Linked DNA regions of Homo sapiens. The protein of the gene in region 1 interacts with the protein of each later gene in a pairwise test. Each region holds a gene or a part of one and is shown in the gene's direction. Other genes may lie near its edges. The genes, in order: ARL6IP5, CLN8, RNF185 and MIEF1.

Evidence for each region.
Region 2: the proteins of ARL6IP5 (region 1) and CLN8 interact in a two-hybrid assay, tested with the Homo sapiens proteins (one study listed by BioGRID).
Region 3: the proteins of ARL6IP5 (region 1) and RNF185 interact in binary tests that used the Homo sapiens proteins (3 or more experiments, as listed by UniProt).
Region 4: the proteins of ARL6IP5 (region 1) and MIEF1 interact in binary tests that used the Homo sapiens proteins (3 or more experiments, as listed by UniProt).

What each region holds. Positions count from the first base shown.
Region 1 is NC_000003.12:69,101,913-69,106,599, forward strand, and holds the end of ARL6IP5 (PRA1 family protein 3), read left to right. Parts: coding exon 1-144; intron 145-2,551; coding exon 2,552-2,724; 3' UTR 2,725-4,180; downstream 4,181-4,687. UniProt on the Homo sapiens protein: Regulates intracellular concentrations of taurine and glutamate. Negatively modulates SLC1A1/EAAC1 glutamate transport activity by decreasing its affinity for glutamate in a PKC activity-dependent manner.
Region 2 is NC_000008.11:1,759,110-1,766,793, forward strand, and holds the start of CLN8 (protein CLN8), read left to right. Parts: upstream 1-4,679; 5' UTR 4,680-4,776; exon of another isoform or gene 4,777-4,889; intron 4,890-5,324; exon of another isoform or gene 5,325-5,475; intron 5,476-7,684. UniProt on the Homo sapiens protein: Could play a role in cell proliferation during neuronal differentiation and in protection against cell death.
Region 3 is NC_000022.11:31,191,161-31,198,191, forward strand, and holds part of RNF185 (E3 ubiquitin-protein ligase RNF185), read left to right. Parts: intron 1-1,523; coding exon 1,524-1,542; intron 1,543-4,308; coding exon 4,309-4,421; intron 4,422-5,775; coding exon 5,776-5,830; exon of another isoform or gene 5,831-5,997; intron 5,998-7,031. UniProt on the Homo sapiens protein: E3 ubiquitin-protein ligase that regulates selective mitochondrial autophagy by mediating 'Lys-63'-linked polyubiquitination of BNIP1.
Region 4 is NC_000022.11:39,505,290-39,512,320, forward strand, and holds part of MIEF1 (mitochondrial dynamics protein MIEF1), read left to right. Parts: intron 1-4,132; exon of another isoform or gene 4,133-4,282; intron 4,283-5,998; 5' UTR 5,999-6,005; coding exon 6,006-6,149; intron 6,150-6,559; coding exon 6,560-6,737; intron 6,738-6,942; coding exon 6,943-7,031. UniProt on the Homo sapiens protein: Mitochondrial outer membrane protein which regulates mitochondrial fission/fusion dynamics.

The sequences.
Region 1 (4,687 bases):
CCCACAATAAAGACGTCCTTCGCCGGATGAAGAAGCGCTACCCCACGACGTTCGTTATGGTGGTCATGTTGGCGAGCTATTTCCTTATCTCCATGTTTGGAGGAGTCATGGTCTTTGTGTTTGGCATTACTTTTCCTTTGCTGTGTAAGTGAACTTGAGTTTTTTCTTCCATCATCAAAAAAATGTAGAAGCAATTATCCAACGGGAATTCCATAACCCATTTCTTATATGTGTTGGCATGTCAGCAAAAGTGTCAGAATTTTCTAAAACAGCTTTCTACTTGTTATCCAACTAGACCCAGATAACACAGAACTGAGGTCAAGAACTATGAGGTCAAGGCCTTATAGTTCATTAATTCCACAAATATTTGTTGGGGCATCTGCTATGTGTCATACATTCTTTTGTTGTTGTTGAGATGGGGTCTACTCTGTCACCCACGCTGTGGTGTTATCTCGGCTTACTGCAACCTCTGCCTCCTGAATAGCTGGGACCACAGGTGCACACCCAGCTAATTTTTTGTGTTTTGGGTAGAGACCGGGGTTTTACTATGTTGCCCAGGCTGATCTCGGACTCCCAAGCTTGAGTGATCTAGCTTCCTTGGACTCCCCAAGTGCTGGGATTACAGGCGTGAGCCACTTCGCCCAGCTGTGTGCCATACATTCTTATGGGGACACAACAGTAAACAGAACAAAGACAAATCCCAGGTCATACAGCAGGAATGTGGCATAACCTGCACTAGACTCCAGATTTGTCTAATAAGAGAGTCTATTCTCAATTTTTAAGTGCCATTCCTATTGTCCTGACACAGGAATGAATGTATTTATTATTTGGAAGTAGACTATTTATTCTCCACTTGCTCAGGAGATCATAACTAGTGTTAAAAGTTTGGTAAGTCTATAGGAATAATTGGCTCAGAATATAGGTACTAAATACTCAGATTCTGGTGAAGAGATCTAGATATTCTCTAAGTTTTACATGAATTATTTACTAAGACTCCAAACACTTGAAGCCTGAAATAGACAAGAAATAAAATCCCAGCCTAATCAGCAGAAATCTGATTAAAATTCTAGTATATTAAGTGACAGGCACATCCCTTTAACTTTCAATAACATTTGACATGTGCACTTATTCCACTAAATGAAATTATTTGCTTGTTTAGGGCTTTGTTAGATTAAGTCCAGAATATTTATGGATACATCCCATACCCTATTGGATAAAATATCTGAGCCAACAAATTCACACATTTTTGGAATTTTCTTCAGGTTTTCTGTAGGTGCTTAACGCTTAGTATTTCAATGATACTGTTTAATCAAACAGCTTGCTAATTTTAATACCTTTCCACATCAGAACCTGAGACAGGCCAGTGTAACGAAATGTATCAGAGGTAGACAGTTAAGAGTCCTGATTTCTATTCTTAGACCTGCTGGAAACCAGCATGTGATTTGGACCAGTCATCCTATATGGGCTGTAGTTCACTCATCTCTAAAGTAAGGAGATTAGATAAGTGATTCCCAAACGGATAATTGTGACAAGCATTCAGGATACTTTTTAAAAATATACATTTCCCAGCCACATCTTTATTTTGTGGGTCAACAGTGGTACCCAAGGATGTTAGGTTTTTAGAAAGCTCGTCAACTATTTCTAACGGGTGGTCTAGGTTGAGATCCTCCAGATGAATCCACATCAGGGTTTTTCAAAATAAGGGTCCAAGATCCACCTACATCAGAATCATCTGGAGTGATTATTAAAATAATGAATTCTGGAGCCTTCCCTCAGTTGTAACAGTCTGAATTTGGGGTGATGGAGACCAGGAATTTGCCTATTTAACAGGCTCTCCAGGTGATTTGAATGTACATGGAAGTTGTAAAACCACTGGTATAGATCATATGGAGAGAGGGTTACCTGTTTAAAATACAGATTCCCAGGCCTGTCTCTTTAAGGCTCAGGTGGAGGAGGTCCAGGAAAGGGGATAGGGAATCTGTGGTAAAATAATCAAGCAAGTTTGGGGAACGGTAGGCTATAGAAACTCTGTAAAGCCCTTAGATTTTTACATCTAGAATTCTATACCCAACACTTTGGGTAAAGCCTCCGGGAGGCACTTTAAAAGTGGACTTTACTCACGTGCTCCTGCAGGGAACAAGATACAGATAATCCCGAATCGAGCAAGAGTTCTTTTCTGGAAAGCCTCGGGTAAGTTGATTTTTAAGTAGGATGGAATCCCGTTGATTCACTCTGAATTTCAGGACATTTAAGTAGCATCTGCAAGGTGATGATATCAGTGTGTGAAGGAAAGGGTGTGGCTTCCAGATAATGGTCCTTCCTGTTGAATACAGCATTTTCCTTTAATGCAGAAAAAAAACTATGTATGACTTGATGGAGAGCTTTACATAAAGTCCAAGGAGCCATTTGAAAGCTTGCATCAATTCGAGAAGCAGACTGGACTGTGGCTAACTAAGGCAGTTTACTAATAGTGTGAAGAGAGGGAGTGTAATATTGATATGGCAAAAGAGAATTGTTGCTTTGGTGTTAACCAGGTGTCCCTTCTCTGCAGTGATGTTTATCCATGCATCGTTGAGACTTCGGAACCTCAAGAACAAACTGGAGAATAAAATGGAAGGAATAGGTTTGAAGAGGACACCGATGGGCATTGTCCTGGATGCCCTAGAACAGCAGGAAGAAGGCATCAACAGACTCACTGACTATATCAGCAAAGTGAAGGAATAAACATAACTTACCTGAGCTAGGGTTGCAGCAGAAATTGAGTTGCAGCTTGCCCTTGTCCAGACCTATGTTCTGCTTGCGTTTTTGAAACAGGAGGTGCACGTACCACCCAATTATCTATGGCAGCATGCATGTATAGGCCGAACTATTATCAGCTCTGATGTTTCAGAGAGAAGACCTCAGAAACCGAAAGAAAACCACCACCCTCCTATTGTGTCTGAAGTTTCACGTGTGTTTATGAAATCTAATGGGAAATGGATCACACGATTTCTTTAAGGGAATTAAAAAAAATAAAAGAATTACGGCTTTTACAGCAACAATACGATTATCTTATAGGAAAAAAAAAATCATTGTAAAGTATCAAGACAATACGAGTAAATGAAAAGGCTGTTAAAGTAGATGACATCATGTGTTAGCCTGTTCCTAATCCCCTAGAATTGTAATGTGTGGGATATAAATTAGTTTTTATTATTCTCTTAAAAATCAAAGATGATCTCTATCACTTTGCCACCTGTTTGATGTGCAGTGGAAACTGGTTAAGCCAGTTGTTCATACTTCCTTTACAAATATAAAGATAGCTGTTTAGGATATTTTGTTACATTTTTGTAAATTTTTGAAATGCTAGTAATGTGTTTTCACCAGCAAGTATTTGTTGCAAACTTAATGTCATTTTCCTTAAGATGGTTACAGCTATGTAACCTGTATTATTCTGGACGGACTTATTAAAATACAAACAGACAAAAAATAAAACAAAACTTGAGTTCTATTTACCTTGCACATTTTTTGTTGTTACAGTGAAAAAAATGGTCCAAGAAAATGTTTGCCATTTTTGCATTGTTTCGTTTTTAACTGGAACATTTAGAAAGAAGGAAATGAATGTGCATTTTATTAATTCCTTAGGGGCACAAGGAGGACAATAATAGCTGATCTTTTGAAATTTGAAAAACGTCTTTAGATGACCAAGCAAAAAGACTTTAAAAAATGGTAATGAAAATGGAATGCAGCTACTGCAGCTAATAAAAAATTTTAGATAGCAATTGTTACAACCATATGCCTTTATAGCTAGACATTAGAATTATGATAGCATGAGTTTATACATTCTATTATTTTTCCTCCCTTTCTCATGTTTTTATAAATAGGTAATAAAAAATGTTTTGCCTGCCAATTGAATGATTTCGTAGCTGAAGTAGAAACATTTAGGTTTCTGTAGCATTAAATTGTGAAGACAACTGGAGTGGTACTTACTGAAGAAACTCTCTGTATGTCCTAGAATAAGAAGCAATGATGTGCTGCTTCTGATTTTTCTTGCATTTTAAATTCTCAGCCAACCTACAGCCATGATCTTTAGCACAGTGATATCACCATGACTTCACAGACATGGTCTAGAATCTGTACCCTTACCCACATATGAAGAATAAAATTGATTAAAGGTTTTTTTGGTGAGACTTTATTTAATGCACATCTGTCTTAAATACCTGAGAAACTTGGCGACGACCCTATAAACAGTGAAGCAAACACTTCAGCTGTTTCAAATACTGTTTAGTAAAGCTTGAATACTTTATTAACTTGCAGCCAGAATAAAACAATTCCAGTGGGATCCTATTTTTAAACCTGGCACGAGTTTTATATACATGTTAGCCCAGTTTTATATACATGTTAGCCCATTCCATTTTCTACAAGGTGAATTCTGCCGATAAAATCCAATAAATTTGGAGAAACTAATAAAAAAAAAGATACCTGTAATTACTAATGGCCAGTAGTCAATTCTGGAAGGGTAATAACAGAAAAATGTAACATATAAATGTTGTAAATTATGATTACATTTAAAAACAAGCTAAAATCTGCAACTAAGATCTTTAGGGTTGGGTGGTAGAAAAAGCATAATGTGAACTGCTTCACCTCTTTTGGCAAAACCTGTGTATTGAGGCCATAAGCTATGAAATTGGATCATCTTTTCTTCTTGTAT
Region 2 (7,684 bases), on another chromosome or scaffold:
ACCTTAAGATCTCTGCTTTGACGTTAATGCAGGTCAGCTGTGCCTGGATTTCAACGGAAGGCGGGTATAAGGAGCCTGTCCCACCCCCACTTCCCATCACGGTCTGAACTAGTCTCTAAGGTTTACTTTGGAAAGCTCGTGGCTAACGGGGTTGGCGGGGGACTAGAATTTTATTTTTGTTTTACAGTCTCAAAGGAATCGCGATAGGTGCAGGGGCCACTGCAGTGGGACTAGGCTCAACTCTGAGTGTAAGAAGAAAAACGGGAATGTACAGCCACGGAGAGGGTGAGAACGGACGGAAAACTATGAAGAGGCTACATCAGGCCAGGGGGGTTCTTGCTAGAACCACTTGGTAGGATTCGTGCCACAGGCAGGCCAGGTGATAAGATACCGAGGGTGAGGGATGAGGAGTATGATATCAGGGGCGGGGAACTGTCACTGCATTGACCCAGCAGGATTCTTTTGGACGAAAGGGGACAGGGGTCCAGGTCAGAGCCTTGAGGGCTTCGAGGACCCTGCCTGGAGTTAGGTCAGGTAGAGTCTTTGCCACATTGAGGCTGAGAAGCTGAGCAGCTGATCTGCGGGAGTCCAGAGACCCTCATGCTTCCTGCAGATGTGCTGTCAGCAGATCCTGAACTTGGGTTCCAGTGTTTTAAAGTGTTGTTTGCAAGCACCGCGGTCCTGCTCTCCCACTCACAGAACTACTATTGCTCACTGGTGAAGGACACTGGATTTAAAATCACAGACGTTCTTTTTCGCCTCTCGCTCATTATACATCCCTTTGAGGACACCGTCATTTTGCTGTTTAGGAGGAAGAAACAGGCAGAAGAGAACTCCTCCCATCCCTCCGCTAATGGCTTTTAAAACAGTCTTTTTTGTAATGGAACAACCAAACCTCACAATGAGCGTATATTGCTTGTGTGACCAGAAAGTAAGACAGTCCCCTGACACCTCAATTAAGTCATTTTGGTTGTCTACTCCAGACACCTCATGGCATCGTACTTCAAAATTCAGCTTTGTCATTTAGCAGTGTGTGGAGGTGCACACATTGCTAACCTCAGGCTCACTGAACACTGTTTTTTTTCTATGACGTGGATAATGGTGCCTGCGTCAGACACCTGTGATGTTTGAAAGAACCAGTTTATCAAAGTGCTTAGCCTGACGCCTGACACGCTGTGCACCCAAGATAAATGTTTGTTGTGTCATTCGATCTGTCGAGGAAGGAGGTGAGACACTTGTGGGTGGCAGGGCGGGAGGGGAGTACACAGGCTGTAAACAGCAGTGCCCAAGCTGAGACGGAGCAAGCTGGGAATCCGCCCGGGTTTCATTCAGTGTTCCACACCCCGCATGGATACTGGTTATACCTGTGATCAGTTATGCCTGTGATGGTTTTTTAGAAAACAAAACTATTTTATCACTCTGCTTTAAAGATGGCCGAGTGGAAAGACACAGTCCTGGAATGTTTAAATTCAAGCTGAAGAGCTTACTAGCCACGTGACTGAGCAAGTTATGGTTCCATCTTTCTAAGCCTCACTTCATTCTTTGTTAAGACAGGCCTCAGCATGCTGTTAGTAGGAATCTAAGGAACCCAGTGCTGATGGAGAAAGGGGTCCAGTCCAGACCCTAAGAGAGAGTTCTCGGATCTTGCGCAGGGAGGAACTCAAGGCAGTCGCAGAGTGCAGTGAGAGACAGCTGCTCTGATACAGAGTGGGGAGCCCGCGGAAAGCAGGAAGAAGAATGTGCCATCTTTGTTTCAAAGGCATCTTGTATCAATGTAAAAGCCAAGCTACGTGTAAGTGCAGGTGGGCTGGCAGTGTGACAAGATCTAGTACTTGGTGGATGTAAATAACGTTATCCTTGGCATTTCAGTGCGTAACTACATCTAAGCATGACTATAGCCATCTTTTTTTTTTTTTTTTTTTTTTTTTGAGATGGAGTCTTGCTCTGTTGCCCAGGCTGGAGTGCAGTGGCATGATCTCGGCTCACTGCAACCTCCGCCTCCCAGGTTCAGGCAATTCTCCTGCCTCAGCCTCCCACGTAGCTGGGATTACAGGCTACTGTAACTGCCAATCAGGTTCATGTTGCCTACACAGAGCTGATTTATCCAAACAGGTGAACTGCATAGAGAAAGAATAATCCACACAGAGCTGGCTGTGCGGGAGACCAGAGTTTTATTATTACTCAAATCAATTTCCCCAAGAATTCGGAGTTCAGAGTTTTTGCTGTTGTTTTTGAGATGGAGTCTTGCTCTGTTGCCCAGGCTGGAGTGCAGTGGTGCGATTTCAGCACACTGCAACCTCCGCCTTCAGGGTTCAAGCAATTCTCCTGCCTCAGGCTCCCAAGTAGTTGGCATTACAGGCGTGCACCACCACGCCTGGCTAATTTTTGTATTTTTAGTAGAGACGGGGTTTTGCCATGTTGGCCAGGCTGGTCTTGAACTTCTGACCTCAAGTGATCCGCCTGCCTCGGCCTCCCAGAGTCCTGGGATTACAGGTGTGAGCCACCGTGCCCAGCCCTGGAGTTCAGAGTTTTTAAGGATAATTTGGTAGGTAGGGGGCCAGTAAGCTGGGAGCACTGAGGGGTCAGATCAGAGATGAAATCGTATGGATCAAAGCTGTCCTCTTGGCCTGAGCCGGTTGCTGAGTGCGGGCCACAAGATCAGATGAGCCAGTTTATCCATCTGGATGGTCCCAGCTAATTCAGCAAGTGCAAGGTCTGCAAAATATCTCAAGCACTGTTGTTAGGTTTTTCAATAGTGATGTTATCCCCAGGAGCAATTTAGGGAGGGTCAGAATCTTGTAATCTCCAGCTGCATGAATTCTAAACCATAATTTCTAATCTTGTGGCTAATTTGTTAGTCCTACAAAGGCAGTCTAGTCTCCAGACAAGAAAAGGATTTGTTTCGGGAAACCATAAACTAAGTTTCTTCCAAAGTTAGTTTGGCCTACACCCAGGAATGAACAAGGACAGTTTGGAGGTTAAAAGTAGGATGGAGTTGGTTAGGTCAGATCTCTCACTGTCTCAGTTATAATTTTGCAATGGTGGTTTCACTGGTTTTAAGATGGAGTTTATTTTATTTTATTTTTATTTTTTTGAGACAGAGTTTCATTCTTGTTGCCCAGGCTAGAGTGCCATGGCGTGATCTCAGCTCACTGCAACCTCTGCCTCCTGGGTTCAAGCAATTCTGCTTCAGCCTCCTGAGTAGCTGAGATTACAGGTGCCCACCACCACACCCGGCTAATTTTTTTCTCCCAAACTGCTGGGATTACAGGCTTGAGCCACCGCGCCCGCCAAGATGGGTTGTTGATTTTAAAACGATGTCACCCTGGCTCTCCTAGGTTCCTGTTCCCCTAACATCATGAAGGCTGCTGGCAGTTCTCTGGCCTCCAGGGAGGCCTCCACACACATTTACCCATGTTCTTAGACAATCCTAGGGACTCAAGGCTTCAACAAACCTAAATGAGCCAGCAGAAAAATAAACTTGAACATGAATGTCAACGTTTTCCCACATGTACTAAAGGGTTATAATAATTTTGAAATGTTTATTTCAAAGAGCGTTGGTAATTTAAACGTCCTATTTAATCCCCAAAACAGTCCTGAGGGGGAGATAAGGCAGTTATCTTCATAGTACAGGAAAGGAAAAAAGCGAGGGTCCAAGGCCGACTATACCCTCAGCTCCATTAGCCCCCGAGGCCTCCCTGACAGGCGGGGCGGACAATCCCAGTGCAGATGCTCTGTATCGATCGCATGCTATCGGTTCTTTCAAGGAACGTGTATTGATCATCAATTAAGTGGTGAGTACTCCTCTAGATGTCGATTCTAAAGAGGGAACAAAACACATTAGACAGAAGAAACATAAGTAACTCGAATAACAACCTTAGAGAGAAGAAACATAAGTAACTCGAATAACAACCTTAGCAAACTGCGGAAACTCCTACAGACAAAAACTCAGGTGTGGGCGCAGAAGGGCCGGGGATGCGCTCGGTCAAGACTTGAAGGTCCGGGGCTTGGGCCCTGTGTCCTCACCGAGCCCCGGGGAGGCTCCGGCTCCGTCCACACCCGGAGCGCGACTCAGCCGCGGCCGGGGCTCTTCTGGAGAACGGCGCGGTCAGGCTCTGCCGCAGCTTTCAGGTCCCCTCGGCCCCGTCCGGGTGCAGCGCAACCAGGCTGCCCGCGGAGCCCCACCGCCCCCATGCCGCCGCCCGCCATGGTTCAGCCCGGCCCCGCCCCTCCCGCCGGCCGTGGTTCAGCGCGTCCACCCCGCCGCCCCACAGCGCCCGCCGCGCCGCGCCCCGCCCCCCGCCGCGCCCCGCCCCCCGCCGCGCCCCGCCCCCCGCCGCGCCCCGCCCCCCGCCGCGCCCCGCCCCCCGCCGCGCCCCGCCCCCCGCCGCGCCCCGCCCCCCGCCGCGCCCCGCCCCCCGCCGCGCCCCGCCCCCCGCCGCGCCCCGCCCCCCGCCGCGCCCCGCCCCCCGCCGCGCCCCGCCCCCCGCCGCGCCCCGCCCCCCGCGCCGCGCCCCGCCCCCCGCCGCGCCCCTCCCGCGCCCGCCGCCCCGCCCCTCCCGCGCCCGCCGCCGTCGTAGCGCCTAGGCGGGGCCTCTCGTAGCGACGCCCCCAGGGGGGCAGAACGCGTGCGCACGCGCGTGCGAACGCGCGTGCGCGGGCGGTGTTTGAGGCCGGCCAGTCGTGACTGGGCGGCAATGAGGTCAGTGACTGCCGGGAGTCCTGCAGGGGCGGGGCGGCGCCAAGCGCAGGGAGCCCGGCTGAGTGGCAGCCCAGGTGAGCGCTCAGGGAGCCCGGGTGAGGGCCGGGAACCCAGGTGAGGGGCAGCCCAGGTGAGCGCGCGGGGTGCCCGGGTTAGGGGCCGGGAACCCAGGTGAGGGGCAGCCCAGGTGAGCGCGCGTGGAGCCCAGGCGAGGGGGCTGGGAAGCCCGGGTGAGGGGACCGGGGATCCCAGGTGAGGGGCCGGGAACTCAGCTGAGGGGGAACCCAGATGGGCGCGCGGGAGCCCACGTGAGGGGGAGCCCGGGTGAGGGGCCGGGGTGGCTCCTGGCGTCCGCGGTCCCAGCCCTGCCTTCCGGTGGGCGTGCGGCACCCCGGGCCGTGCGGTTCCCGGACAGCAGCTTGTGGGGGACTTTCGAGCCCCGCAGCCCGGGGTCCTGCCTGCGCGGGTTGGGCGTGGGGGGCTCCTCACCGCGACGCTGACTTTGGAGTCCTTGAGCGGCGCGGATGCCGGACGGAGGGAGGGGACAGGCGGAGGCGGAGGCGGCGCCGTCGCCCCTGACCTCGCTTCCCTCAGACCGGCTGGGCAAGTACGGTCAGCTCACCTGTGTGCCCACGAGGCGGGGAGGCGGCTCCTGCAGAGCCACAGAGGTGCCGTCGGAGCTGCTGTCAAGGACAGCAGGTGTCACGTGGGTGTGGCCTCCACTGGTCACCGAGTTAGCTGGGGCGGAAGGGGACAAGGTGCAGCTCAACATGGTGTGGGAGGCGGAGGGACGCTGGGTCAGTCAGAACCTGTAGGAGCGGGGAGGGACGCTGGGTAAGGTCACCAAAGTGTGCGGGGGAGAGAGCGGGCGCTGGGTCAGGTCAGCAGGAGGTGGGACCCGCCTGGGCTCTGGGCCCTATAGCCAGCTGCTCTAGGTTGGGGTTGGGTGTGGACAGTAGGGAGGGGAGCCAGGGGCTCCCCAGCCTGTGTAGATTCTGCTGTAAGTGACTCTTCTCTGAAAGACTGGCGCGAGGCGGCTGCTTCTGACTCCTGTTTCAGTTTACCCTCTGTGTGAAATCTGTAACTATCCAGCTTCTGCTTACCTCACTCCCGTATTTTGATTTTTATTTACATACAACTTTTCAGGAAGGTTGTGAGAGGAAAGAGCAATGGTGCAGGAAGTGTGAGTGATTGAGGGAATATGAGATGGCCACAGCTCCCCACTGAGCTTGAACACTTCTGTGCCTCACTTTCAGATTGGCCGTCATGGAGGCTGTGGTTGTTAAGGAAGTTCTTCCTGAGCATCCAGTTTCCATACAAAGAGCACAGGTTCTCTAGGTGGCCTCAGAGATGTTCAATACACAATGTCTTCTGATAACGAGGAACTGGGCAAAAGCCTGGTAGGACACCGGGTAGGTAAATGGTGGAGTCCCTGCAACCGTGTTGCAGAGGAGGATTAGCTGTTGCTGAGAGAAGAGAAGCAGGCCGGGGAGCAGCTTGTATACTGTTATCCCCTTTTATGTAAAAAGAAGAGTTTATATCTAGAAAAACAATTGACCCAGCAGGCACCAAAAAATAGTGATGGTGCTTGGAGCTGTGTAAGAGGATTGTAAATTTTTATTTTTGTATTTTTATGCTTGTTTATATTTTCTGAATTTTGTGTATTAAACATGTATTTCTGTTGATTTTGGAAAACATTTTTACAACCCATCAATGTATAATTTTCAAAATGTTAGAAGTATAATTCTCATGTAAATAGCTCTTGTCAGGTTATATTTCAGTCATTAATGCAGTATACAGCAGGATAGGAATGTCAGTTCAAAAGAGAATACACAAAACTAGGATTTTCTTAGTGAGTGGGTAACAGGAATGCTGAGAGAAGATTGCCAGATTAGATAATAAGATTGGTGAATATCCTGTGTGCATTGAAACCACAGCCTTTGGGATTGTCTTTTCTTCTTGATGGAAAGGAGAATTAGCTTTGCAGATTGTAAAATGCGTGACCCACAATCAGTGGTAAATAGTTTAGTTATTTCTCCTAGAAAGTCAAGTGATTGTTGGGGTTGTAAAACACTGAACTTGCGTTAGCAGGGAAAAAAGCATGCAACCTTTTTTTTCCCTTTTGACGTCACTTCCAAGTTTGGATAAATTATCTCAATGAAAAACAAAAATGCTGGTATCCATAGCAGTTTAGCCCCCATAAACCGGAGGAGCGCATAGATGCATGACAGAGTCGAAGGGTTCCAGTGGCCACTGAGCCTGGTTCCTGGTCACACTGCAGCAACAGAGCTAACACTCTTACTGATGTGTTTGCATTCAGATTTTTAAAAAACTTCATGGCCCAGTGCAATAGAAGAGCTGAAACCACAGAATCTTATAAGACAAGCTTTTTGTATACATTTTCTCCAAAGAAAATGAAGATCTGCAGCGTCAAGAGATGGTGGCCTTCCAGGAGTTGTTTATTCTCCGGCTCCACTTCCTCTACTGCAGAGAGGAAAGGGGCTGGTGTGGAAGGGCTTGGAAGCCTTCCAGAATGAAAGAACCAGATGAGTCCATTAGGTTCGGCCTCCAGTTTTTTGTTTTTTTTTTTTTTTTTGAGACGGAGCCTCACTCTGTCACCCAGGCTGGAGTGCAGTGGCGCTATCTCAGCTCACTGCACGTTCCGCCTTCCAGGTTCCCGCCATTCTCCTGCCTCAGCCTCCCGAGTAGCTGGGACTACAGGCGCTCGCCATCACGCCTGGCTATTTTTTTTTTGTATTTTAGTAGAGACAAGGTTTCACCATGTTAGCCAGGATGGTCTCGATCTCCTGACCTCGTGATCCTCCCACCTTGGGCTCCCAAAGTGCTGGGATTACAGGTGTGAGCCACCCTGCCCGGCCGATTCGGCCTCCAGTTTTACCCATGGAAGGAACAGTGACTTCCAGCTGTGCATTACACTTAAGGACTCCTTCATGTGGCCTGAGCCTTATGGTGCACAGCAAG
Region 3 (7,031 bases), on another chromosome or scaffold:
GGAATGGTCGTTGTTATAAAGCCTGACTTTCCCCTGAGGGTCATTCATTCACCTCCACTTCTCCCCTAGAGTCTTTAAGGGAACTTGCCAGTGGAGATCTGCCATGATTTGGGGTTATTCTCCACTCAGTTTAGAATGACATTGCAAGATTAATGTTGGAGTCAGATGTTATGGCCAGGAAGATTGTGTATTTGGTTTGTGAAGCTAAACTGTGGTTCAGGAATTGGAAAAGGAACTATCCTTTGAGTTCAAAGTGTACTCAGCTAAAGATACTTGGTATGTGAGGTACAGAAGCCATGCCTGCATTTTCCACTGTCCTGGCCTACATAGTAGGTACACAGTAGATATGTGTTAACTAAATAAACGAGAGAAAGAAATTAAAAATGTGGGCCAGACACGGTGGCTCACACCTTTAATCCCAGCACTTTGGGAGGCCAAGGTGGGCGGATCACCTGAGGTCAGGAGTTTGAGACCAGCCTGACTAACACGGTGAAACCCCGTTTCTGCTAAAAATACAAAAAATTAGCTGGGCGTGGTGGCACACACCTATAATCCCAGCTACTCAGGAGGCTGAGACAGGAGAATCGCTTGAACCTGGGAGGTGGAGGTTGCAGTGAGCTGAGTGAGCTGCACTCCAGCTTGGGCAACAAGAACAAAACTTCGTCTCAAAAAAAAAAAAAAAAAAAAGTGGAGTTGAATACTTTTCTTTCAATTCTGTAGATATCATTTTTTTTTTGTATGTGGTGTTAGATTATAGAAAGGGCAATGAACTAGAAGTCAGGAGACTTTTTTTTTTAATCCTGATGCAGTTCATTTTATGTTTCTGAGCTTTGGTTTCCTCATTTGAAAATGGAGAGAGATTGGACAGCAGCTCTCTAAGCTGAAGGTAACCCTTTCTGTCAAGTAGCATCCCCATCCTTTCTATTACTTAAAGATGCTTTTAGAGTAGACCTGAACTTTTAAGCTGCTTCCTGCTAGGAGAGTTCTCAAGGATGAGGACAGCCTGAAGATTTTGTTAAACTGGATCTGGACTACCTGAGAGTCCACACATCCCTTGTGAGCCCGAGGAGACTATGAACCCACTGAAATTGAGTGTAAAATAGTGTGTAGTACATGTGTATGTGAATGCCCCCATCAATTTTTTGCACAGGGTGTCCTTAGCTTTTATTGGATTCCTTCAGATGTTGTAACCTCTCACAGGGTGATTTGTAGAGAAGCTGGGTCTGTGTGGTCTGAGCCCTGGGGATTTCACATATACTGAGATCTCAGGGGCAGAGGCTGGGGTCTTATCTCCATTGCGTTATTTATTTTCTGTGATTTTTACCCCAGTTTTTTTTTAATTTCCGATACCAGTAATCCCTACAGAACCTCAATGGGCATGCAGTGCTCCATAGTTTACTCCTGTTTTCTCATTCTGCTACTACCACTCCACCCATCAAGTGTTTCTGCTAATGAAAACATTTTTCTTCCTTTCCCCTTTTCTCCTTCTCCTTGATGACTGGTTGCCCTGGGGACTCTGGCAGTTGGCCGTGTTTACATCAGGTAAGATGCATTTCATTTTACTTTGTCTTTCATCAGCTCTGGTTGCACAAGAGAGCCCTAGTCTCAGGAGACTGCTTTCAGAAGCTGCAATCTGCCCTGCTTGTGGGCTCATTTGCTTACTTACCCCCACAGCCTTCTTTACATACCTGTCCACTGACAGACACTTGATGAAATCGGGATGGTCCTAATTCTGCCACAGAGGGCCTTTTTGGATCTCAGTTACTCATTTATAAATTGGATTGGATTGATAGTATGTTAGTTAGGTCCTTTTTATTTTTGAGATTCTGCTTCTATTAAAACAGTGCCTCCTATCATATCAACAGTCCCCCAGCCCTTAAAGGTTATGAAAATATTAGGAAGGGGAAAATTTTTTTGGTGTCAACAAAGAGCTTTTGTGAGGAGAGAAAAGTCTATTTTCCTAGCTTTAGCACCTACTTGGTGAGACAGAGCTGGGCCTGGCATTCACAAGTGGCTGTGAATAATCACAGCCTGCTGAAAGTCTCCCTGGTCGTCAGCAGTAGAGTACCACACTCGTAGGTGGCCTGGGAATGTGGGGGAGGACAGAAGTTCCAGACTGCTAAAGCTTCAGAATCTGGATGGGAGAAAGAAGGTGGGAACAGGGCTGCACATTCTGTCCCCAGCGGGACCTGGTAGTACATATTGACTATGAGTTTATGAAGAACACATAACACATTAAGTTTTGGAGCTATGAACAGTAAGAGTAGTAAATAAAATCATTCAGTGCTGCCATCTCCTCAGCCCTGAAGTCCTAGATTCATGTTTATAGAATGTCTATAAAAACACATTTTGGCCGGGTGTGGTGGCTCACACCTATAATTCCAGCACGTAGGGAGGCCAAGGCAGGTGGATCACTTGAGGCAAGGAGTTTGAGAACAGCCTGGCCAATATGGCAAAACCCCGTCTCTACAAAAAATATAAAAATTAGCTGGGCGTGGTGGTGCACGCCTATAGTCCGAGCTACTAGGGAGGCTGAGGCACGAGAATCGCTTGAATCTGGGAGGCAGAGGTTGCAGTGAGCTGAGATTGCACCACTGCACTCCAGCCTGGGTGACATAGTGAGACTCTGTTTCGAGAAAAAAAACCAAAAAACCGAAAAAAAAATCAAAAACAAGCAAAAAACAAACAAAAACAAACCAAAAACATTTTTTATCACTTGTTTTTTTAAGAAAATTAATTTTTTTTTTTTTTTGAGACAGTCTCATTCTGTCGCCCAGGCTAGAGTGCAATGGTGAGATCTCGGCTCACTGGAACCTCCGCCTCCCGGGTTCAAGCGATTCTTGTGCCTCAGCCTCCTGGGTAGCTGGGATTACAGGTGCACACCACCACACCCGGCTAGTTTTTTTGTCTTTTTAGTAGAGACAACGGAGTTTCACCATGTTCCCCACGCTGGTCTTGAACTGCTGACCTCAGGTGATCCACCCGCCTCAGCTTCCCAAAGTGCTGGGATTACAAGCGTGAGCCACCGCGCCTGGCCTAAACAAAAAATTTTAATGTAACCAGTGAAAGGGCCTGAGAAACCCAAAACGGGATTTTTTTTATATTGAAAGAAATAGGTGAATGCAAAAAATCAATGAAAGTACACAAAAAGCATTAAGCAAATTTAGATAATGAGCAAAACCTATCCTTTAGCATGTGGTAAGTCACCAGAAAATGATCAGCTTATCTCCTGATTCTGATGCCTGGGATACACAGTTGTTGGGAAAATGCTATAAAAATGAGAAATTGGCCGGGCGCGGTGGCTCATGCCTGTGATCCCAGCACTTTGGCAGACCAAGGGAGGAAGATCACGAGGTCAGGAGTTTGAGACCAGCCTGGCCAACATGGTGAAACCCTGTCTCTACTAAAAATACAAAAATTAGCTGGGCGCAGTGGTGGGCGCCTGTAATCCCAGCTACTTGGAAGGCTGAGACAGGAGAATTGCTTGAACCCAGGAGGCAGGGGTTGCAGTGACCTGAGATCATGCCACTACACTCCAGCCTGGGTGACAGAGCAAGACTCTGTCTGGGGAAAAAAAAATGAGAAATCACAGAAAGAAGAATATGACTGACAGGAAAATACAGTTGCTCCTACTGGGAAGGTGGGGATTTAAAGTTTGCTGTACTTACACCAGCAGCCTAAATTGAGGCTGGGCATGTCAGACTTGACAGCCCCAGACTTGCAGTTTCCCTCCCCCTGTGTTGCTAGGAGGCCCTAGAGAGAAACAAAGCATGAAGAAGCCTAATTGTGATGATTTTTTTTCTTTTTTTTGAGACAGAGTCTTGCTCTGTTGCCCAGGCTGGAATGCAGTGGTGCAATCTCGGCTCACTGCAACCTCCGCCTCCCGGGTTCAAGCGATTCTCCTCCCTCAGCCTCCCGAGTAGCTGGAACTACAGGCATGCGCCACCATGTCTGGCTAATTTTTGTATTTTTAGTAGAGACGGGGTTTCACCTTGTTGGCCAGGCTTCTCTTGAACTCCTGACCTCAGGTGATCCACCCACCTCCGCCTCCCAAAGCGCTGGGATTACAGGCATGAGCACCGCACCCGGCCAATTATGATGATATTTAAAGGCAATTTTGATTTTACCACTGGTAGGTATTTGCTGAATGGTAGGAGAAGGAATGGGAGTCAGGTTCCTTGAGATGTTCCCTGCTCATGCTGGTGTTTCCCAGTTTGAGGCCTCTGGCCTGTGTTGTTCTGGTGGCTCTGGCTGATCACTCTGGTGGGTCTTGGGCCATCCACATGCATTTTTCTCTCCTGTTTGCAGTGGTTGGAGACCAGACCTAACAGACAGGTGTGTCCTGTTTGCAAAGCTGGCATCAGCCGAGACAAGGTCATCCCCCTCTATGGAAGGGGCAGCACTGGGCAACAGGACCCCAGGTGAGGACTCAGGATGCCTCTCCCAACCACTTCTCCCCTTGGATGTGAATTCACTCCCATTCAGCATCCCCTAACCCCACCCTTTACTTAGTACTAGATGATCTCTTGGTTTCGAAGCAGTCTCATCCAGATGAGAGTCAGCTAGGAGGGGAGGGAAGAGAGGGGATCCAAGTTGCCACTTGCTAGGACCCAGCAGTGAACAGACATCACAATCACAAGTGTGCAGAGCCCTGTGAAAGAGCATTTCTGCAACCTGGGAAGCAGGATATGTAGCAGGAGAGGCTCCAGGGAGCAGGGTTGCTGCATCAGTGATGTATAAAGCATGGCGGGAGGGGAAACAGGATCTGGGTGACTTTGTGGAGTTTGGGATTTCTAGAAATGGAGATGTGCATGGGTCCAGCATTCAACAAACACAAGTATTGAGAGCCCTTCATGGTCTGGCATCCCCAAGCTCTCCAGAAGAATCTCTTACCTTTATCCAGCTACCCTAGCATATGCTGTGTACCCGACATATTAGACTTTCTCTTAAAGGGACTTGCTCTTTCACATTTATCAGCCTGTGTATTTGCTCTCTCTTCTGCCTTCTTCCCTCCCCAGTCCTGCTCAAGCTACCCCTCTACCCCCACCTGCTCCTCTAACTTCTACTCATCTCTTATGAGCAGCCCTAAAGTTCCCTCTTCCTTGAAGTGGTCTGTCTTCTTCACATTAGTTGCTCTCACCCAGTTCCCACCACAGTGTCATATGACTGGCTTTATCCCCCTTGAAACCATGAACACTTCAAGGGTTGGGTCTGTCATCAGTATTACAGCATCCTGCATAATGCTTATTGTATAACTAAGCCCTCAATTGAGTATTCATGGGTTGAGTGATTTGAGGGGGTGAGACTCAAAAATAATAGCATTGGGTATTTGCCCAAGAATAGTAGGAGATAGAGCTGAAGTTAATAGGGGAAGGTCAGAGAAACCATGAACCTCAGCCCTTACTGCTGACAACCCACCCTCTGTTCCAGTATGGATTTGGGATTTCTGTTATCTGTAACAGGCCCAGGGAAGGCATCTGGCCATGATTCCTAACCGATCTGAGTCAGGATCTCTGTAAGAGGAGTAGGCTGTAGTGCAATCTGGTGAATATCTCATAACGAGTTGATTTTCTCCCTGGTTCTCTATACACGTGGGAAGAACAGTTGCAGGTAGAATGAAGAGTTCGTATTTGGAGAATTAATCTGGCATAAGTTCATGTCCTGGACAAGAAAGAGGCTATGGCCCTGACCCTGTTGGTAAAGAGCTCCAGGTCCTCACAGGGAGCAACTCAAAGCAATTTGTAATAGACTTATTTTACACCATTTCTGTTTCAGAGAGAAGACCCCTCCTCGTCCTCAAGGACAGAGGCCAGAGCCGGAGAATAGAGGGGTGAGGAACATTCTAGGAGAAGCTTCTACAAATGAGCTGATGGCTTTAGAAGTTTCCTTCTTAGCCTTACAATTTTTCTCCTTGATTATAAAAGTAAAGGAAAACTTGTAAAATACAGAAAGGAAAAGAGGGGGAAAAAAATCACTTATAACCACACCAATCCAGAGGTAACCACTGGAAACATTTTGGTTCTATTTTCTTTTCCATTTTTCTATAATTATATATACACACAAATTTTACAAATCTGTGCGTGTATTTTACAGATGTGTGTATACTTTTTACAGTTTTTGTTTTTTGTTTTTTACAATATGTGGCTCCTGTTTTGTAACCCTCTCTTAAAATTTCATTTGTTCTACAGATACTTAGTACCTTCTTTGTGTGAGTGGGAGTCTTTTAGTATTATCTTGAGATTTTACATTGCCAGCAATATTTTACTAACTAGCTGTTTAGCATTTAGTTGTGTGGATTTAACATAATTCAATCCTTTGTTAGACATTAGCGGCTTTCTTTTTCCAAGTTAAAAAAAATCCTGATGAACTTACAGATAAATTTGTGAGCATGTTCATTATTATTTTATTAGGATAAGACAGGGTCTCACTCTGTAGCCCAGGCTGGAGTGCAGTGGTGTGATCACAGTTCACTGTAGCCTCGACCTCCTGGGCTCAGTCTACCTCAGCCTCCCATGTAGCTGGGACCACAGGTGCACGGCACCATGCCCAGCTAGTTTTTTGAGTTTTTTTTTGTCTTTCTTTTTTTTGTTTTGTTTTGTTTGGGTAGAAACAAGGTCTCACTATGTTGCCCAGGCTGGTCTCTAACTCCTGGGCTCAAGCAATCCTCCCACCTCAGCCTCCCAAAGTGTTAGGATTACAGGCGTGAACCACTGTACCTGGCTTAGGATAAATTCTTAGAAGTAAGATTACTGGCTAAAAAAAAATTGCACATTTGTCTCTAGTGGTCTAGTGGCTAGGAACAAAAACATTTACATTTTTTGCATATTTACATCAAATGTTACTCTTAAAAAAATTCTGTTAAAATGTTAAAGAAATTTTAAAAGCAAAATATTTACCCACCATTGCCAAGAGCCCAGAACAAGTATATTCTCATATCCTCATGTTCTCTTCATCTGTAGGCTGTGCATATGTATTTTTATGTAGCCATCACCATTCTGTTTGCTTTAAAATTTAATTTTGGCAGGTTTTCC
Region 4 (7,031 bases), on another chromosome or scaffold:
TCCTCCCTTCTCAGCCTCCTGAGTAGCTGGGACGCCAGGCATGTACCAATGTGCTCAGCTAATTTTTTATTTATTTATTTTTTTTGTAGAGACGGTCTTGCTATGTTGCCCAGGCTGCTTTCAAACTCTTAGCCTCAAGCGATCCTCCCACCCTTGCCTCCCAAAGCTTTGGGATTATAGGTTCAAACAGCTCTGCCTGTCCAGAAACTGCACTTTGTAGTCTGGAAACTTAAGTCTGATGTGGCCAGCATGGTACCCCTGTAAGGCAAATAGCCAGAGTTGAGGCTGGGCCTGGTCTGGAAGGACGTTGACTCCAAGTTGAGATTGTAATGTATATCTTCTTATGTGGGGACCATCACAGCTCTGTAAACAGAGGAATGACATAGCCACATTTGTATCGTAGAGGGAGCATACCAGTGGCAGTGTGAAGAATAAATTGATGAGAGATACTAGAGGCAGTGGATGTAGCCAGATCAGATTGAGGGACCGAGGGGTGGGGGTGGCCACATATAAACACAGTGTGTACAGCAGTGGGACTTGGTGATCAGTTGGCTGAGGCAGGAGGAGGAGAGAGAAAGATGAAGAGTAACTGGGTGTAAGGCCTGCCAGCTGGGTGGAGGGTGCTGCTTTTAACTGGGGGAGGGAAAGTAGGAAGAGAGCCTTATGTAATGACTTTTGGTTCTTCTCAGCCACTTAGGATTGGCATATCTGCCTTTGGCAGTACAGGGCCAGGGGTGGGGTGATGCCCATGGGAGCCTGTCTGCACAGGGAGGGTTGGCTAGCGGATCTAGGAGGGAATTAGGGCGTTCCTTGAAATCTTTGTGTTCCTAATATATTTTGGCTGTGAGTTGGGCTACACGCTGCTATCACTACCCCCTCAAAAAAACCAAGAAACAAAACGCCGTAGAGTTAATACTTCATTCCCACAACATATACTCCCTATGCATCAAACACTGCACACCCTGGGGATGCAGCAGTGAATGAGCCCAAATGTCCCCCAGAAGCATATGGTCTGGGGGTTAATGGAGTGGAGATGGGAACAAGGTGTGGAGCAAGTACCTAGGACCCCTGTAGATTAGTTCTCCGCACCGCGTGATCTCAGGGTTCAAATCTTGGTCACATACTTTACTGACACAGTGACCTTGGGTCAGTTACAGAAACTACTCAGTTTCTTCATCCTTTAAATTTGGGATAATATTACTGATCTCATGGGATTGTTGTTGTGAGGATTGAGGGAATTAATAATAAGTGTAAAATTGCCAGCACATAATACACACTCAATATCTGCTACCTAGTCTCGTACATACTCAAGCAAGATAGGTTTATAAAAAGGCCTATGGCTTTTTCAATTAAAATAAGTTGGAACTTTCACACTTCTGTGCTGTCATCCTAGGAAGCCGCAAGGCCTCCATTATTCATCATCCTTAACTATATTAGGGTGATGAGCATTTCTGTTCCCATTTTTGTATCTAGCGAGACAGGTTAAATAACTTGCCTGAAATATTGGCAGAGCTGAAATTCTCCATCCCTAGTTCTGCCCACCAGGTCTGTGTTCCTTCTTTGTTTTTTATTTTAACCATCTTAACCATTTTAAAGTGTACAGTTCAGTAGTAGTAAGTATATTCACATTGTTGGGTAACAGAGCCCCAGAACCCTTTTCATCTGGCACATCTGAAACTCTGTACCCATTAAGCAATGGGGTTCCTTCATGACAGTCCCGATTGGAGGTGGAGTTCTTACCTGCTAGTAGGCTGTAAGCTTATGCAGCAGAACCTGAGTGGAGAGCGTGTCATGGAGAAGCAGTTTAAACTGGAACAAGTTGAATTAACTTTTCAAGTAAGGTCCGTGTCTGTCTGTTGAGCTTGTGGATGCCGTCTTCTGTTCCAGGTCACCAGGTCTGTGATGTCAGTCCGTCCTTGGATGGTGGGCGGGGGGTGCCTATTGCACTACAGTAGGAAAAGCCTTTTTTTCTTGAGATGGAGTCTTGCTCTGTCACCCAGGCTGGAGTGCAGTGGGTGCAATCTTGGCTCACTGCAACCTCTGCCTCCCGACTTCAAGCGATTCTCCTGCCTCGGCCTCCCGAGTAGCTGGGACTACAGGCGCCTGCCACCACACCTGGCTAATTTTTTGTGTTTTTAGTAGAGACAGAGGTTCACCGTGTTAGCCAGGATGGTCTCGATCTCCTGACCTCGTGATCTGCCCACCTTGGCCTCCCAAAGTGTTGGGATTACAGGCGTGAGCCACCGTACCCGGCCGAAAAGGCTTAACAAGCTGGCCCAACTTAATAGTTTTGATCTCAGCTGTTGGCTCACGCCTGTAATCCCAGCACTTTGAGAGGCCAGGGTGGGCAGATCACCTGAAGTCAGGAGTTCGAGACCAGCCTGGCCAACATGGTGAAACCCTGTCTCTACTGAAAATACAAAAAATTAGCAGGGTGTGGTGGCTCATGCCTGTAATCCCAGCTACTAGGGAGGCTGAAGCAGGAGAATCACTTGAACCTGGGAGGTGGAGGTTGCAGTGAGCCGGGATTGCCCCACTATACTCCAGCCTGGGTGACAGAGTGATACTCAGTCTCAAAAAAAAAGAAAAAATAGTTTTGATCTCAAGTCCAAGATGGCATCACTGCGAATTTTCAAGGCCGTTTTAGAGCAGTCTCAAAAGGTGCACTGTCACTCAGAGGACAGTCTGGGTTGCTGACTGACTTCTGGAAGCTGACCTTTGTCCTGTGGATGGAAATCTTAAAAGACTAGAGGAGAACTCATTTGTGGAGCACTTTTACAGTTTATAGACCATCCACTGCAATACAGTTTATACCGTTCACATACAGGATTGCAGTGAATGGTTTTTCCTCACTACAACCCTGTGATTTGGTCCCACGCGGGGACCATTATCCCCTTTTCGTAGCTGAGGTGTTAAGTAACTCATTTGAGGTCACCCAGCTAATAAGTCAGGGCTCAAGGCAAGTTCTGTATCTCAGGATTTCTGACTCTAAAACCCACGCTCTGTTCTGTCATCTGTAGCACCACCTTGCTCTCACCAGTCATCAGAAGGGCACCAAGGACTAAAATGGTCCAGGGAGGCTGCTTCTGCCCTGAGTGAGGAGGTGCCCTTCTGGCCCTGCTGCATCACACTCAAGGATCATTTAGAGGGCACATGTGTCCAGTGGCTCTCCCTATTGTAAATATTTCAGTAAAGAGTTAAAACAAGAGACATTGTTATGTGTGGGGAAATGTATAGTGTTCTGCTTTTCTCCTGATTGGGTTATCTTGCCTCTGCTAAGTTTGGTTTGTCCCGTCTCTATCTCAGTGGCCACTGGAGAGAGGGTGTCTGCTGTTCTTCCCTGATTCCACCTGTAAATACAAACGTTATCTCTTCTCCCTGGCTTTGCTCTGTGCATTTGAGGTGGGAATGTACTCGGTTTGGCGAAATAGTCTTTCATGTCCCTAAACCTGAAGCCTCTATTGACTGTAAATGGTAGAGAAAAGGAAAGTACCCCCAAGGTGTGAACTCTAGTTAGGGAAAAAAATATTTTTGGGCTTGACAGTGACTCTTAGTTAACTCAATTACTGGAATAATAGAGTCAGAAATATTTCTTTGTTTTTCAGGGAGGTAGAGGCAGGAGCGTAAGATGTGGAAGCTAGAAATATCCACTTGTAACACGGTATTAGAAGGAATGTTATTTTACATGGAAGATAATCCTCAGTGATCCTTTTTTTTTTTTCTTCAAGACGGAGTCTTGCTCTGTCACCCAGGCTGGAGTGCAATGGTGATTCTCCTGCCTTGGCCTCCCGAGTAGCTGGGATTACAGGCATGCACCATCATGCCTGGCTAATTTTTTGTATTTTTAGTAGAGATGGGGTTTCACTATGTTGGCCAGGCTGGTCTTGAACTTCCGACCTCGTGATCCACCCACCTTGGCCTCCCAAAGTGCTGGGATTACAGGTGTGAGCCACCGCGCCCGGCTGATCCTGTCTCTTGATGTCCTCCCATTCTGGGACGCTAAATGGTATCCGACTTTGTTTTCCCTTATGTCATTCCTGGTGTGAAGGACACGGGATATTATAGAGGAGAGTGGCAGCATGCTGAGTGGTATTCCGATCTGAATCACACTGTCATCCTTTATCCGGCTCAGGCCCAGGGTTCTAACTCCACAGGAATGGGCTTATCTGGGGACTGCTGCTGCTGCAGTCAGGAAGACTCCACTGTAGTCGGGAGCAGCACTGGCCTGAGCACTGCACTGGAGGCCAGCCTCTTCGCTGTGGTGCCCAAGTACTTCTTTCAGGTGAACACATTTTTAGTTCCTCTTCCAGGTGTAATCGAGCAGATGGGTGTTTTGTTTTCCAGTTAGCAGTCGAGTCTGCAGTGTCCTTTGTGTTTTTTATCTCCCGGTATACCAGTCTCACCTAAGCTTTTATAGTCCCCGCTGCGCACTTCTCTCAAGAAACAAAGCATTTGTCAAGTAGGAGGGTCCATGGAGGGACCTTTCTCACATATGGACGTGTAGTTTCAGTTCCGTGTGCAGGATGTTTGGTACATGTTGTTTTGTGTTTTGTTTGCAGAAAGTAGATAGAATAAGGGCCGATTTGATTTGGGTAAGGGTGAGCATGGTACAGTAGAAAAAGCGTCATACAAGGAGTGGGGAGTCCTGAGTTCTGGAGATGACTGTGTCGTTTTGTTTTCGTTTTTGAGACGGAGTTTAGCTCTTGTTACCCAGGCTAGAGTGCAATCGTGTGATCTCGGCTCACTGCAACCTCCGCCTTCCGGGTTCAAGGGATTCTCCTGTCTCAGCCTCCTGAGAAGCTGGGATTACAGGCATGCGCTGTCACATCTGGCTAATTTTATATTTTTAGTAGTGACGGGGTTTCTCCATGTTGGCCAGGCTTGTCTTGAACTCCTGATCTCAGGTGATCCGCCTGCCTCGGCCTCCCAAAGTGCTGGGATTACAGGCGTGAGTCACCGTGCCCGGCCCATTTTGTTTTTTTATTTTTATTTTTAAGAGATGGGGTCTCACTCTGTCACTGAGGCTAGAGTGCAGTGGCGTGATCATAGCTCACTGTAGCCTCAAACTCCTGGGCTCAAGCATTCCTCCTGCCTCAGCCTCCTAAGTAGATAGGACTACAGGCATGTGCCACCATGCTCAATTTATTTTTATCTTTTACTTTTGGAGATGGGGGTCTTGCCATGTTGCTCAGGTTGGTCTTGAACTTCTGGCCACAAGCGATCTTCCCACCTCAGCCTCCCGGGTAGCTAGGATTATAGGCATGAGCCACTGCGCCTGTACCATTTCTTTTCTCTGAGACCTGACACATCACCTCCCTATGTTGAGAACCTCTGTGTGAGGTGATGTGATGGCATTAGATGAGCTCCAAGGTCCCGCTCAGATCTAACCTTCCACAAAGTAGTGGCCAAAGGACGAAGAAATGACCTGCATTATAACCCCTGTGATGGGGTAGAGAGACCTGCTTTATAACCTCTGTGAAGGGGTAGAGAGACCTGCATTATAACCCCTGTGAAGGGGTAGAGACCTGCATTATAACCCCTGTGAAGGGGTAGAGACCTGCTTTATAACCCCTGTGAAGGGGTAGAGACCTGCATTATAACCCCTGTGAAGGGGTAGAGACCTGCATTATAACATTGTGAAGGGGTAGAGACCTGCATTTTAACATTGTAAAGGGGCAGAGAGAGGGCTGTTTTGCATGGTGGGGTACTTCATTGTAATACAAAAAAGGACTGACACTGAGCTTAATGCTTTCTTAATCTCACTAGCTTGGGGAAAGTTTTCCTACAATACCCAAGATCAGCCCCTCCTCCTTGCATCCTGATCTATCATGGGACATTGTAGCTCCCTCCAGACCCTAAAGCATGCAGTGCTGGAGGCAAGAAGATTTGGGTTGCTGGAACTCACAGAGTACCCTGTACTTGTTGGGGTTTGGCTTGTTAGGGGAGGGAGGTTCTTGGGGTCCCAGTACTTATGGCCGTGTTCTGTCTTCATTCTCAGATGAGCAATGGCAGGCGCTGGTGAGCGCAAAGGCAAGAAGGATGACAATGGCATTGGCACGGCCATTGACTTTGTGCTCTCCAATGCCCGGCTGGTGCTGGGGGTGGGTGGAGCGGCCATGCTGGGCATCGCCACGCTGGCAGTTAAGCGGGTAAGTGCATGCAGCCAGGGCTGGGGGTGGAATGTAGTGGTATGGTCATAAGATGTAATGTTTTATAGAAAGAAAATGTCGAAGCGTTCTAGGAGGAAATGATCGCAATGATAAGTGAAAAAAACAGGTTTCAAAAGTATGTATAGAGTGATCGTCATTACATGCATCTAGAAAGAAACATACCAGATATTACAAACAGTTTTCTCTGGGTCATGACGTGGATTATCTATGTCTTATATCATGTAGTCTTCCCTGAGATTTTCTGCGTGGAGCAAAGTATTCTATAATCTAAAATAAAAACAAAATTACTAAAAGAACTTACTAGGACAGAGCTTCTGGGGAGGAAGTAAATTGGAAGGAAATAGGGAAAGAGGGCAGGTTTATGTCCTGTGTCCTCTCTGCTATTTCAGATGTACGATCGGGCGATCAGTGCCCCTACCAGCCCCACCCGCCTGAGCCATTCGGGGAAAAGGAGCTGGGAAGAACCCAACTGGATGGGCTCCCCACGACTGCTGAACAGGGACATGAAGACGGGCCTGAGCCGGTCCTTGCAGACCCTTCCCACAGACTCCTCCACCTTCGACACAGGTGAGAAGGGCTGCTGCCCCTCCTGGGACCTCTCTGGACTTTCAGTACCACTCCTGCACTCAGCAGATGTTTCCTGAGCACATCTGTGCCAGGCACTGTGCCAGCACTTGCCCTCCATGCCAGGCCCTTCTTTCTGGGGCTGAGGCAGCTGTGGACTGAGCAGGCATGGGCAGAGCTCACGTGCCTCTCTCTCTTGCCTTGGCAGATACATTCTGCCCGCCCCGGCCCAAGCCAGTGGCCAGGAAGGGCCAGGTAGACTTGAAGAAGTCACGACTCCGCATGTCCCTGCAGGAG